Homo sapiens: one gene and its partners. The protein of the gene in region 1 purifies or fractionates together with the protein of each later gene. This does not show direct contact. Each region holds a gene or a part of one and is shown on either strand. Other genes may lie near its edges.

Region 1 (3,651 bases):
ACACAAGTTACTTTTTACTACTAATAAATTCTCACATACTAAATTCTCACGTACTAAACATTCAAATACTGTACATGTGTTTTATTTATAGGTCCCAATTTCAAGGTAAAATGTGCTTCACTCGTGCTAGAAGTGAAAGAATATCCTAGAATTATTATCTAAACTGATTTTATCAAATTAGCTTTCCCAAGTAAAAACTAGAGTTATTTAAGTAGTTATTTGAGTAACTTCTTAGCAATGTAGGAAAAAAATAATAGGAATTAATGTTCTCTATGAAATAAGAAAAAGGCTTAAATCTATTCTGTACACTATATTTTACATTTATTATTTTCAAGTTTAACAGAATGACCACACACATGCATTTAAAATTTGCAGAATTCTATAAATATATTTCTACACATTTAAGGAACTATAAACTATATTAGTATGTATGTATTATTAAATTTAGTAACTGCTAGGTGTGGTGGCTCACACCTGTAATCCCAACACTTTGGGAGGCCGAGCTGGGAGAATCACTTGAGGCCAGGAGTTTGAGGCCATCCTGGGCAACATAGTGACATCCTGTCTCTATATAAACACACACACACACTCACACAAACACAGATTTAGCTGGGTGTGATGGGGCATGCCTGTGGTCCCAGTTACTCTGGAGGCTGAGGCAGAAGCATCATTTTGAGCCTGGGAATTTGAAGTTACAGTAAGCTATGATCACACCACTGCACTACAGCCTGGGTGACAGAGCAAGACCCTGTCTCAAAAAAAATAATATTATCATTTACTGAACATTTACTATTGGCCAGACACTACTCTAAGTCCTTTACATGTATTGACTTATTTCATTCTCACAACCCTACAAAGCAGGTATTTTTTAATTTCCATTTTGCAGACAGGAAAACTGAGGCATATGGAGGTTACGTAACTTGCCCAAGGTTATATACGTTACCAGTGGTAAAGCTAGAACTCATAGATAGTTTTGCTCTAGAGCAGGAATGTCCAATCTTTTGGCTTCTCTGGGCCACACTGGGAGAAGAATTGTCTTGGGCCACACATAAGATACACTAACACTAACGAGAGCTGATGAGCTAAAAAAAAATTGCAAAAAAACTCATAATGTTTTAAGAAAGTTTACAAAATTTGTGTTGGGCCACATTCAAAGCCATCCTGGGCTGCATGTGGCTCACAGGCCACGGGTGGGACAAGCTTGCTCTAGAGCCTAAGATTTTAATAAGTACCCTATTCTTAGTACTATTAATAATTTAAACATCATTTAATTTTCTTTATAGACATAATAATGTATATTTCCTCCATGCCACAGAGAAGGGAATTGGTTATGAAGGCAGAGTATTACTGACCTGAGCTTTCACTGCCTCTGTCACTGCACTCGCTGCATCCACAAGGTCCCTGGTCTTTGCAGAACAAATGTCTAGTCCTAACTTTTCAGCAGTAACAAATGCATAAAATGCACCGCCATATGCAATGTCCACCATCACCTTTCCATGTCCAGGAACATCCACCATGAGATCTAAAAAAAAGATGTGTTTGGAAAGAAGATGTGTTTGTTAATAAGTATTTTAGCAATAAAATTCAAAGGATTTTTAATATGTTTATTTTTCAAGAGGGATGTTCTTTTCCTATCATAAAAATAATGAAGTAAAAATCCGTTTTTTAAATGAATAAGCATCGAGTGAATAATAGCTAGATGCATCATTCTATTTTTAACTTGATGATTGCAGAAGTTATAAACTAAAGCCATGCTTTCCCTAACTCATACAGACATATTCATTAACTTCCCTGAGGATCTTTTCTAGGAAACACCCCTGAGGCCGAGAGAGGGAAACCCAAGGGCATCCCTGTGAACACTAAGAAGGAAAATGTCTATTCCCCACTTGTACTATGAGAGATGGTTTAAAATAGTGAGGGTCTTGGATCCTATTTACAAATCAATTTTCTTCAGCCGTAATGTCAAAACATAAATTTTAATAAAAGATTTTTCTATATAAATTATATACACTTATCTACATGTTTTCATCTCCTTAAGGTATCCTGCAGGCAAACACAGAAAAATGCCATTGTAGAATCATTGACTGCTACAGCATCATTTTGCACCAGGGTTTTTATTTGAGCATTTTAAGTCTCAACATCCCCAAAGTTTCACCTGAAGGTCAGTAGTTTGAAATCTTGAATCTGTATTTCCAAAGAAAGGGGGCTGGGTGATGTTTATTTCGCCCCTTCTCAAATTTTCCTCTTCCCTAATTTAAGCTAGCTTGGTGATCACTGCCTTTTAGGGAAGCCTATGGCAGGGGAGAAAGCTTGTCTTTCATGTTTTTATTTTAGGGAAGCCTAAGCTCTCAGGGGAAAGACATCTGTTGGCAAAGGAGTGTCCTGAAGGGAGAAATATTTCTCCTAGAGATAAATTTTTTCTCCCTTGAGAAGAGTGGAGGCTGAAGGTCCTTAGTGCAGAGAGGACGTGTGTTAACTTCCCCCAGGGCACCACAGGAGCAGGAGTGAAGAAACAGAGGATGGGGAGGCAGTGCAGAGGGCAAGGACCAGGTAGGGTGGGGCAGCCAATGCTCCTGCTCCACTTTGCTGGTTAACTGTGTAAGCTGAGGACTGAAGTGCCATCCTCTCCAAGGCCACAGCACTTTTAAGAAACCTTTGCTCACACATATCAGGAAAGGGGACAACACATGGAGTGATGAGGCTAAGTGAACCAAAAGGACAGAGTAGAGTTTCAGCTTCAGAAATTAAGTTTTGGGAAAGAAAATATATCTTGTGTTCCTGAGTTTTCATACAAGGTCATACAAAGATATCAGTATGCTATCAGTCCACAGAAGGCTATCAGTATGCTATTAGTCCACACTAGTCCACAGAAGCCCTTTTAACCCATGATGTGTTAAAACAGAGCAAGTTTATAATCAAAAGAGTAAAACATGCTGTGGATTGTAACAACAAAACTGAATAAAAAATGTCTTTATCTTGATGCTGGCGCAACATGAAAAGCAAGTTTAATGAAAAGAGAATGGGCAAGTTGATAGAAATGAGGGACTGCTGGAAGGTGGAAAGCTAAAGTGAGGGTGAAGATCAGCACTTACCAGGAGACACAGGTGACGGTCCCAGGGTTCAGTCGGCCTGCCCTCTTCCCTTGATTGTAACAACTAAATGGGGCATTGGCCACCAATCCCGGGACCAGGATGAAATTGGGAAGCTGGTTCAGGAGAAGTCATCCCTGAGCCTACAATCATTTCCCTGGCCCAACCTTTCTAGAATCTTGGGTCTGGTTTTCTTAGGGTGGGCAGTTGGGTAGGGTGCTACACCTCACTGAGTTTCAGTTTCCTTTTCTTTAAAATGGACCAAATTTCCTTTAAAGTTACTCTTGTCCACCAATTATCTGTGACTATTTCATTTTTTAATCACTAAATTACTAACATTAAAAATTAAGATATTTATTTCACCCATGAGTACTTCCTATGTGGCAGGTCTTTACATACACTAGCCCCTTAATTCATTACATTAGTGCCTTAATTACTACAGCCCTGAGAGGTAGGTACTGTTTTACTTACTATCTTTACATTATTCCCTGGTTTACCCACTAAATAAGTGGCAGAGCTTGGGGTCAAACCCAGGACCAGGTGACTCCAAAGCCCAAACCCT
Region 2 (3,751 bases), on another chromosome or scaffold:
GATAGGACAAGCTCACTAGGTTGGAAAGGAGGGGTCATTCGTTGAGCCAATCACTCAGCCCTTTCCAAAACGCCTACTCTGTGCTAGGTTGTGAGGGCACAAGACTTACAGACCACCTGCCCTGCCTGCCAGTGGCTCATAGTCCAGTCTAATGCTAGCCAACCTGTCTCACCATCTTCCCACTTTATGTTCTATCTAAGGCAACTCATTTATTCCCACAGCTTTACTTCCATCTGTTGATGACTCTCAACTTTTCATATCTCCAACCTAGACCTTTCTTCAGCTTCCACAGCTGTATATCCAACTATCTACTGGATATCTCTTGTATGTTTCACAAATCCCCAAGGCTTACCATATTTAAATTTAACTTTTTCATTGTCTACCCACACCTCAACAACAGAAAAAACAAATGTTGGATGTAATTATTATCTTTCCTAAATTCCGTATCTTGTTAAATGGATTAAACCATTCTCACTCTTGGCTTCCAATTTGTTGCCAAGTTTTGTTGATTCTCCTACCAAATATTTCCCAAATCTATCTCCACCTTTCCATCCCGATTCAGGCGCTCATCATTTTTTAAAATCTTGGAATAGGCTGGGTGTGGTGGCATGCATCTGTAGTCCCAGCTATTTGGGAGGCTGAGGCAGGAGGATCACTTGAGCCCAGGAGTTAGAGGCTGCAGTGAGCTATGATCACACCAATGTACTCCAGCATGGAGAAAAGAGCAAGACCCTGTCTCAAAAACGGCAACAACAACAACAACAAAACAACAGAAAAAAAAACTTGGAATACATCAATAGTCTCCTAATCGGTCTCTAATTTCATCTCTGTTCAGTCTTCCCTCTTCTGCCAGAGTGACCTTCCTCAGGGACTGATCATGTCTCTTCATTGGCAATGGCTTTCCATTGCCGTCAATTTGATCTCTTTGGCCTACCACACAAAGCCTTTGATTATCTGTTTCTTTTTTTAAATAATTTAATTTGAGTACCAATATTTAGGTCCTTTCTACCACCAATATTGAACCCAAGTTCTCATAGTTTCAGAAAATGCCATGACTTGTAGCCGTTTCCTCCACCCTAGAACACCCTTTCCCCCAGGCCCTTCAGTGTCTGCTGACTCAACGTTAAATGCCCTTTTGCTGTGCTCCACAGCACCTCAGTAGTTGTTAGACATCTAGCTTCTCTAGACCGTGAGTTCTGATGGGCAGCCACCATGTCTAACTCGTCCACTTTCTCTCAGTATATGGCCCTGCACCAGGCACAGACAGATGATGCTCAGAAAACATTTGACGAATAAATGATTGAGTAAACGAAGAGTTACTGTACTCTGATCGCCTTTACAGAGAGAACATCTGGGCCTCAGAGACACCAGAACACCCAGCGGCCCGCGTCCAGGGAGTCTAGAACCTTGGGCTCCCGCGCACACCCAGGCCAGGTCCTGGCCGTCATTCTCCCGCCGGCCTCTGGGGGAGCTGCGCGGTCCGCGCTCTCTCTCCGCTGCCGGAATTCGTCTTGCCTGACGGAAGCTGGGGAGCGGGCAGGCGGCGGGGGCGGGGCCTGGAGGAGCCTACACCGACTCTGGAGGAAGACTGGAGCCTTTGCGGCGGCGCTGCCCCTCCCCTGGTCCCCGCGAGCTCGGAGGGCCCGGCTGGTGCTGCGGGGGCCCCGGGAGGTACGGACCTGGGAGGCGAGGCTCGTCCGGCGCTAGGATCGGCCTCCGCCTCCGGGCCGCTTTAGGTGGCTGGTCTCTGCCTCTCATTCCCTCTGGGGGCTCCCCCGTGAGAAAATCTGTGGCGGAGGCACCTCTGGCCCACTCTTATGGTGTCCTTTATTGTGGGGCTCGCTATATGGAGAGGGGGTCTGTGTCAGGAGCTTCCCCTGGAGAGGTTTCTGTTAGGGACCGTCTTTGGGAGTGATCTATCTCTGCTCTCTGGGGGGGATCTTTGTCTGGAGCTTTTGGGGGGCTTGTGTTTGGAAGTTTGCCTTCGGGGAGATATCTGTCTGGGACCTCTTAGGGTTTCTGTATCTGAGCTTTCTCTTTTGTGTCTGTCAGTCCAAGGGCAGCAAAAAGTATGTCCTTTCTGAAGCCTTTTTTTCCGTAGGTTTCTTCATTCTTTTCTCTCTTGTCTTATGTTCATTTTAGCCATAGACTTGACTGGAGTTTAGAGGGAATTGATTGTTGTCCAGATGAGTCGTACAGGAAAGCAGATTGTCTTTTTTTGAGACGGAGTCTTGCTCTGCCGCCCAGGCTGGAGTGCAGTGGCATATTCTTGGCTCACTGCAATCTCCGCCTCCTGGATTCAAGCGATTCTCCTGCCTCAGCCTCTCAAGTAGCTGGGATTACAGGCACCCGCCACCACGCCTGACTAATTTTTTGTATGTTTAGTAGAGATGAGGTTTCACTATGTTGGCCAGTCTGGTCTCGAACTCCTGACTTTGTGATCTGCCCACCTCGGCCTCCCGAAGTGCTGAGATTACAGGCGTGAGCCACCGTGCCCTGCCCCAGATTATCCTTTTTATTTGCTCAGTCCCCCCAGGGAGCAGATGGCTTCAGACAGCCACACAAAACACTGTTCCTGCTTAATTCTCCATGGGGTCATGGTTAAAGAGAGGAAGCTGGGCTGAGCTCCCTTTACTAATTGGTCCTCTACATCTTGCGCACAGAAGGGAACCTGGCCCAGTGGCCAGTGACTCTCCTCTCCCTTTATGGCAGCATTTCCAAGCACCTGCCCTGTGACAGATACTGGCTAGGTACTGGGGATAACAAAGACGAATAAAATAACAGCTTACCATCCAGTAGTAGACATGGAGACATCCGTTTCCTCTGACTAGCATTGGGATGGTGCTGAAACCCTGGAACTATACATTCAGTTTAGAACTATACATTCAGTTTAGAACTCTCAGTTATGGACGTTCTGCCTTCTGTTTTTTTGGTTTTTGTTTTTGTCCACCAGAAAACATCTGCTAGTAACTGCCTTCTGTGTTGATGCTTTCTTTCCTCACCTTACCCAGCGTGCTTCTGTTCTTCAAGGTTGAAAACTAAGCATGGGGAAGAGCTGCAAGGTGGTCGTGTGTGGCCAGGCGTCTGTGGGCAAAACTTCAATCCTGGAGCAGCTTCTGTATGGGAACCATGTAGTGGGTGAGTGTTGTTGGAGGGGGAGGAACAGTGGAAGAAGTTGAAAAATAAGGAATAGGACTTGATCACAACACACACAGGCTAAAAGCTGCTCCTGGTGGTTTTCCCCCCTGGAAGAATAAAACTTACATTGTAACAGATCAACTCTACAACACTGAACAAATACGGAGGGAGAAAGCCCTATGTCCAAGATAGGAAAGAGAAGCTGTCATGTCACACTTGTGCTTAGCATGGAATTAGCATAAAATTAATGTCCATTGGCCGGGTGCGGTGGATCACGCCTGTAATCCGAGCACTTTGGGAGGCTGAGGCGGGTGGATCACCTCAGGTCGGGAGTTCGAGACCAGCCTAACGAACTTGGAGAAACCCTGTCTCTACTAAAAATACAAAATTAGCCGGGTGTGGTGGCACATGCCTGTAATCCCAGCTATTCGGGAGGCCGAGGCAGGAGAATCGCTTGAACTCGGGAGGTGGAGGTTGCGGTGAGCCGAGATTGCGCCATTGCACTCCAGCCTGGGCAACGAGAGCAAAACTCCGTCTCAAAAAAAGAAAGAAATTAATGTTCGTTCCCCTAAACCCAAATCATTTCAGTCCTGCCAGGCTGTCAATTCTCTGG
Region 3 (3,651 bases), on another chromosome or scaffold:
ACAGGGCAACTTTTAGTCCTGAAAGCTCCATTCATGTTAAGTGCACTAAACAGGTGTGGTTTTTAATTTTTCATACCATATTTTTACTGTACCTTTTCTGTGATTAGATGTTTAGATACACAGATGCTACTGCGTTACAACTGCCTACAGTATTCAGTACAGTAACATGCTGTACAGGTTTACAGCCTAGAAGCCATAGGCTATCCCGTTCAGTCTAGGTGTGCTGTAGGGCTACACCATCTAGGTTTGTGTTAAGTACACCCTATGATGTTCACACAATGATGAAATCACCTAACGACACATTTCTCAGAATGTATCCCTGCTGTTAAGTGATGCATGACTGTATTACTATGAAAGTAATATAAATAACACATATTGGATATATTAAATATCGATATTTTAAGTACAGGGGGTCAAATAATGTCCTGAATGCCAAGGCTCTCAGAGTCCAAATTGTGGATTCTTAAAATAATTAGGAATAGGCTGTACTTGACGAATAGATACTTTGACTAAGTGAATAGTGTAGATTTTTAAAAGCTGGATCCTAAGAGACCAAACATTTCAGTGCTCATCACTTGAAGATAATCCCTGCTCCACATCAAATGCCCTTCTCTTTCAAGGCTCAGACCTCAACCCAAACTCAGGATCTGTGTATAATAAACGTTGATAACACCCAAGAATCTGTCAGAAAGTTAGTGCAAGAACATGAAACTCACCTCATTGGAAGACAATGGCTGGGTGAAGGGAGCACTAGAGGAAGTGGTAATCTCACTCATTCGGAGCATGGTTCGCACAATCTCGCTGCTTGTCTGTTTGAAAAGTAAACTAGAATTCAGAAATCACAGTGCTGCCCCTGGCTCTATGTGCCAATGGCCATATCTGACAAATAAGTAAATGTCCCTGATGACCAATGACAGACCCACTTAGGTATTACCTGGTCCATCCTGTTAGCAACTGCGCTCACAATGGCTTGGTCACGGAAGTGTTGGTGGAATCTGTCAAGGTTGGCCTGCCAATAAATCCCATCATCTGGAATGGGCTGAGGAAAAGATTTAGAGAAACATTTAGCTATAGTGTAAAGTTTTCTGGTGAGGAGCTTGGATTTAATGGTTCACCATTTCTTTTCCTACACAGTAACAATTACATTGGTTGGAAAAAAATCATTCAGTCATGTAGACTGGTGTCTAGACAAATTCCGACTTCAAACAGGTTTTCTAAGCTCATCTCCAATCTTTCTCTCCCTATTTTATTATTTAACATTTATTTTAATTTTTTTCTGAGACGGAGTTTTGCTCGTCACCCAGGCTGGAGTGCAGTGGCATGATCTCGGCTCACTGCAACCTCTGCCTCTCGGGTTCAAGTGATTCTCCTGTCTCAGCCTACTGAGTAGTTGGGATTACAGGCAACCACCACTGCGCTAGGCTAATTTTTGTATTTTTAGTAGAGTTGGGGTTTTACAATGTTGGCCAGGCTGGTCTCGAACTCCTGACCTCAGGTGATCTGCCTGCCTCGGACTCCAAGTGCTGGGATTATAGGTGTGAGCCACCACATCCGGCCTTTCTCTCTCTATTTTAACTCTTCTCCATTACTTTCAAGTCTCCAACTTGACCCTTCTTCCTTCTCACTCTCGGCAGATGACTTTGCCTCTCATTTCACAGAGAAAATAGAAGACACTAGGCCAGAACTCACTCAGCTCTGTGCACATCCTCACCACATTTCTTTTTTGTTCTTGATTCATATTTTCACTCACTTTTATCACAGCTGAAAAATGCTCCTTTTACCTAAGGTTAATGCCCATATTGGTATTCCAAATCTTACTCTCTCATTCATTCTTGGGGATCCAGCTCTATTTTACCCTGTCCTCTAACATCTTCAGGCTTTCCTTCTCTACCGCCTTCTTATCAGCCTTTACCCTGTCCAAGTCTCTTTCTACTCTAGAATTCTCTTTCAACCCTATGCCTTCTCTTCTTTTCCTTAGTGTCACAGCCAAGCTTCTCAAACAGTTGGCCATCTCAGTTGTATCTCTACCTAGATTTACGCAACCCATTTCCACTATTGTACTGAAATGTCAATTGTCACTCGCATTCCAGTGAAATTCCACAACTGTCCTTAAGGATTCTATGTTGTTAAGTTCAAATAATAATTTCCACTTCTGATCTTATTTAACCTTTTGGAAGCATATGACATGGTTGGACATTTTTTCCTTCTTAAAACTTTATGTGGCTCCTTGGTTTTATGACACCATTTTTTTTTTCCTTTTAAAGACAGGGTCTTTGTCACCCAGGCTGGAGTGCAGTGGTGTGATTGTAGCTCACTGCAGCCTTGACCTCCCTGGGCTCAGGTGATCCTCTCATCTCAGCCTCCCAAGCAGCTGGGACCACAGGTGCGTGCCACCACGCTTGGGTAATTTTTGTATTTTTCTGTAGAGACGGTCTCACCATGTTGCTCAGGATGGTCTCAAATTCCTAGGCTCAAGCGATCTGCCCGCCTTGGCCTTCCAAAGTGTTAGGATTACAAGTGTGAGCCACTGGGCCTGGCCGACACCATTTTTTCTTGGCGTTACTTTGAACCTTTCTGGCTACCTTTCCTCAGTATCCACAGATTCCTCTTTCAGATCCCAACTGTAATCCTGGTGTTTTGTCAGGGTTCTGTCCATACCTTTCCTTTCTTTTTACTCTACATGCTCTACTTGGGTAATTTTATCTGCTCTCCAGGCTTCAACTATTGATGCATTTCCAAATCTGTTACTCTATCCTAGAACTCTCTCTTTTTTTTTTTTTTTTTGAGATGGAGTTTTGCTCTTTCGCCCAGGCTGGAGTGAAGTGGCACAATCTCCGCTCACTGCAACCTCTGCCCCCCAGGTTCAAGCGATTCTCCTGCCTCAGCTTCCCAAGTAGCTGGGATTACAGGCCTGCGCCACCATGCATGGCTAATTTTTGTATTTTTAGTAGAGACGGGGTTTCGCCATCTTGGCCAGGCTGGTCTCGAACTCCTGACCTCAGGTGATCCACCTGCCTCTGCCTCCCAAAGTGCTAGGATTACAGGCATTACCGCACCCGGCCTATCCTGGAACTCTCTATTATGCTCCAGATGCATAGACTCAGCTGCCTATTTGACACTTCCATTTGTTCCCCAAACTGTTCTGTTTTGTAAGTTTTCAGGTAACTACACTATAACCAACCCAATTTTTTTTTTTTTTTGAGACAGGGTCTTGCTCTGTTGCCCAGGCTGTAGTGCAGTGGCACCATCATGGCTCACTGAAGCCTTGACTTCCTGGGCTCAAGTGATCCTCCCACCTCAGCCCCTGAGTAGCTGGGACTACAAACATGTGCCACCAGGTCTGGTGTTTTTTTTTTTGGTACAGATGGGGTCTCACTATGTTGTCCAGGCTGGTCTCAAACTCCTGGGCTCAAGTGATTCTTCTACGTCAGCCTCCCAAAATGCTGGGATTACAGGCACGAGCCACTGTGCCTAGACAACCCAATTTCTTTTTTTTTTTTGAGATGGAGTCTTGCTCTGTCACCAAGGATGGAGTGCAGTGGCGTGATCTCAGCTCACTGCAACCCCTGCCTCCCAGGTTCAGGCCATTATCCTGCCGCAGCCTCCCAAGTAGCTGTAATTACAGGCACCTACCACCATGGCCGGTTAATT

Evidence for each region.
Region 2: the proteins of L3HYPDH (region 1) and NKIRAS2 purify together in Homo sapiens (affinity purification with mass spectrometry; 2 studies listed by BioGRID and IntAct, with this or other methods). This does not show direct contact.
Region 3: the proteins of L3HYPDH (region 1) and POLR3C purify together in Homo sapiens (affinity purification with mass spectrometry; 2 studies listed by BioGRID and IntAct, with this or other methods). This does not show direct contact.

What each region holds. Positions count from the first base shown.
Region 1 is NC_000014.9:59,477,830-59,481,480, forward strand, and holds part of L3HYPDH (trans-3-hydroxy-L-proline dehydratase), read right to left. Parts: intron 1,523-3,651; coding exon 1,353-1,522; intron 1-1,352. UniProt on the Homo sapiens protein: Catalyzes the dehydration of trans-3-hydroxy-L-proline to Delta(1)-pyrroline-2-carboxylate (Pyr2C). May be required to degrade trans-3-hydroxy-L-proline from the diet and originating from the degradation of proteins such as collagen-IV that contain it.
Region 2 is NC_000017.11:42,018,534-42,022,284, forward strand, and holds the start of NKIRAS2 (NF-kappa-B inhibitor-interacting Ras-like protein 2), read left to right. Parts: upstream 1-1,556; 5' UTR 1,557-1,671; exon of another isoform or gene 1,672-1,736; intron 1,737-3,011; exon of another isoform or gene 3,012-3,030; 5' UTR 3,031-3,044; coding exon 3,045-3,138; intron 3,139-3,751. UniProt on the Homo sapiens protein: Atypical Ras-like protein that acts as a potent regulator of NF-kappa-B activity by preventing the degradation of NF-kappa-B inhibitor beta (NFKBIB) by most signals, explaining why NFKBIB is more resistant to degradation.
Region 3 is NC_000001.11:145,830,648-145,834,298, reverse strand, and holds part of POLR3C (DNA-directed RNA polymerase III subunit RPC3), read right to left. Parts: intron 1,040-3,651; coding exon 935-1,039; intron 826-934; exon of another isoform or gene 810-825; coding exon 717-809; intron 1-716. UniProt on the Homo sapiens protein: DNA-dependent RNA polymerase catalyzes the transcription of DNA into RNA using the four ribonucleoside triphosphates as substrates.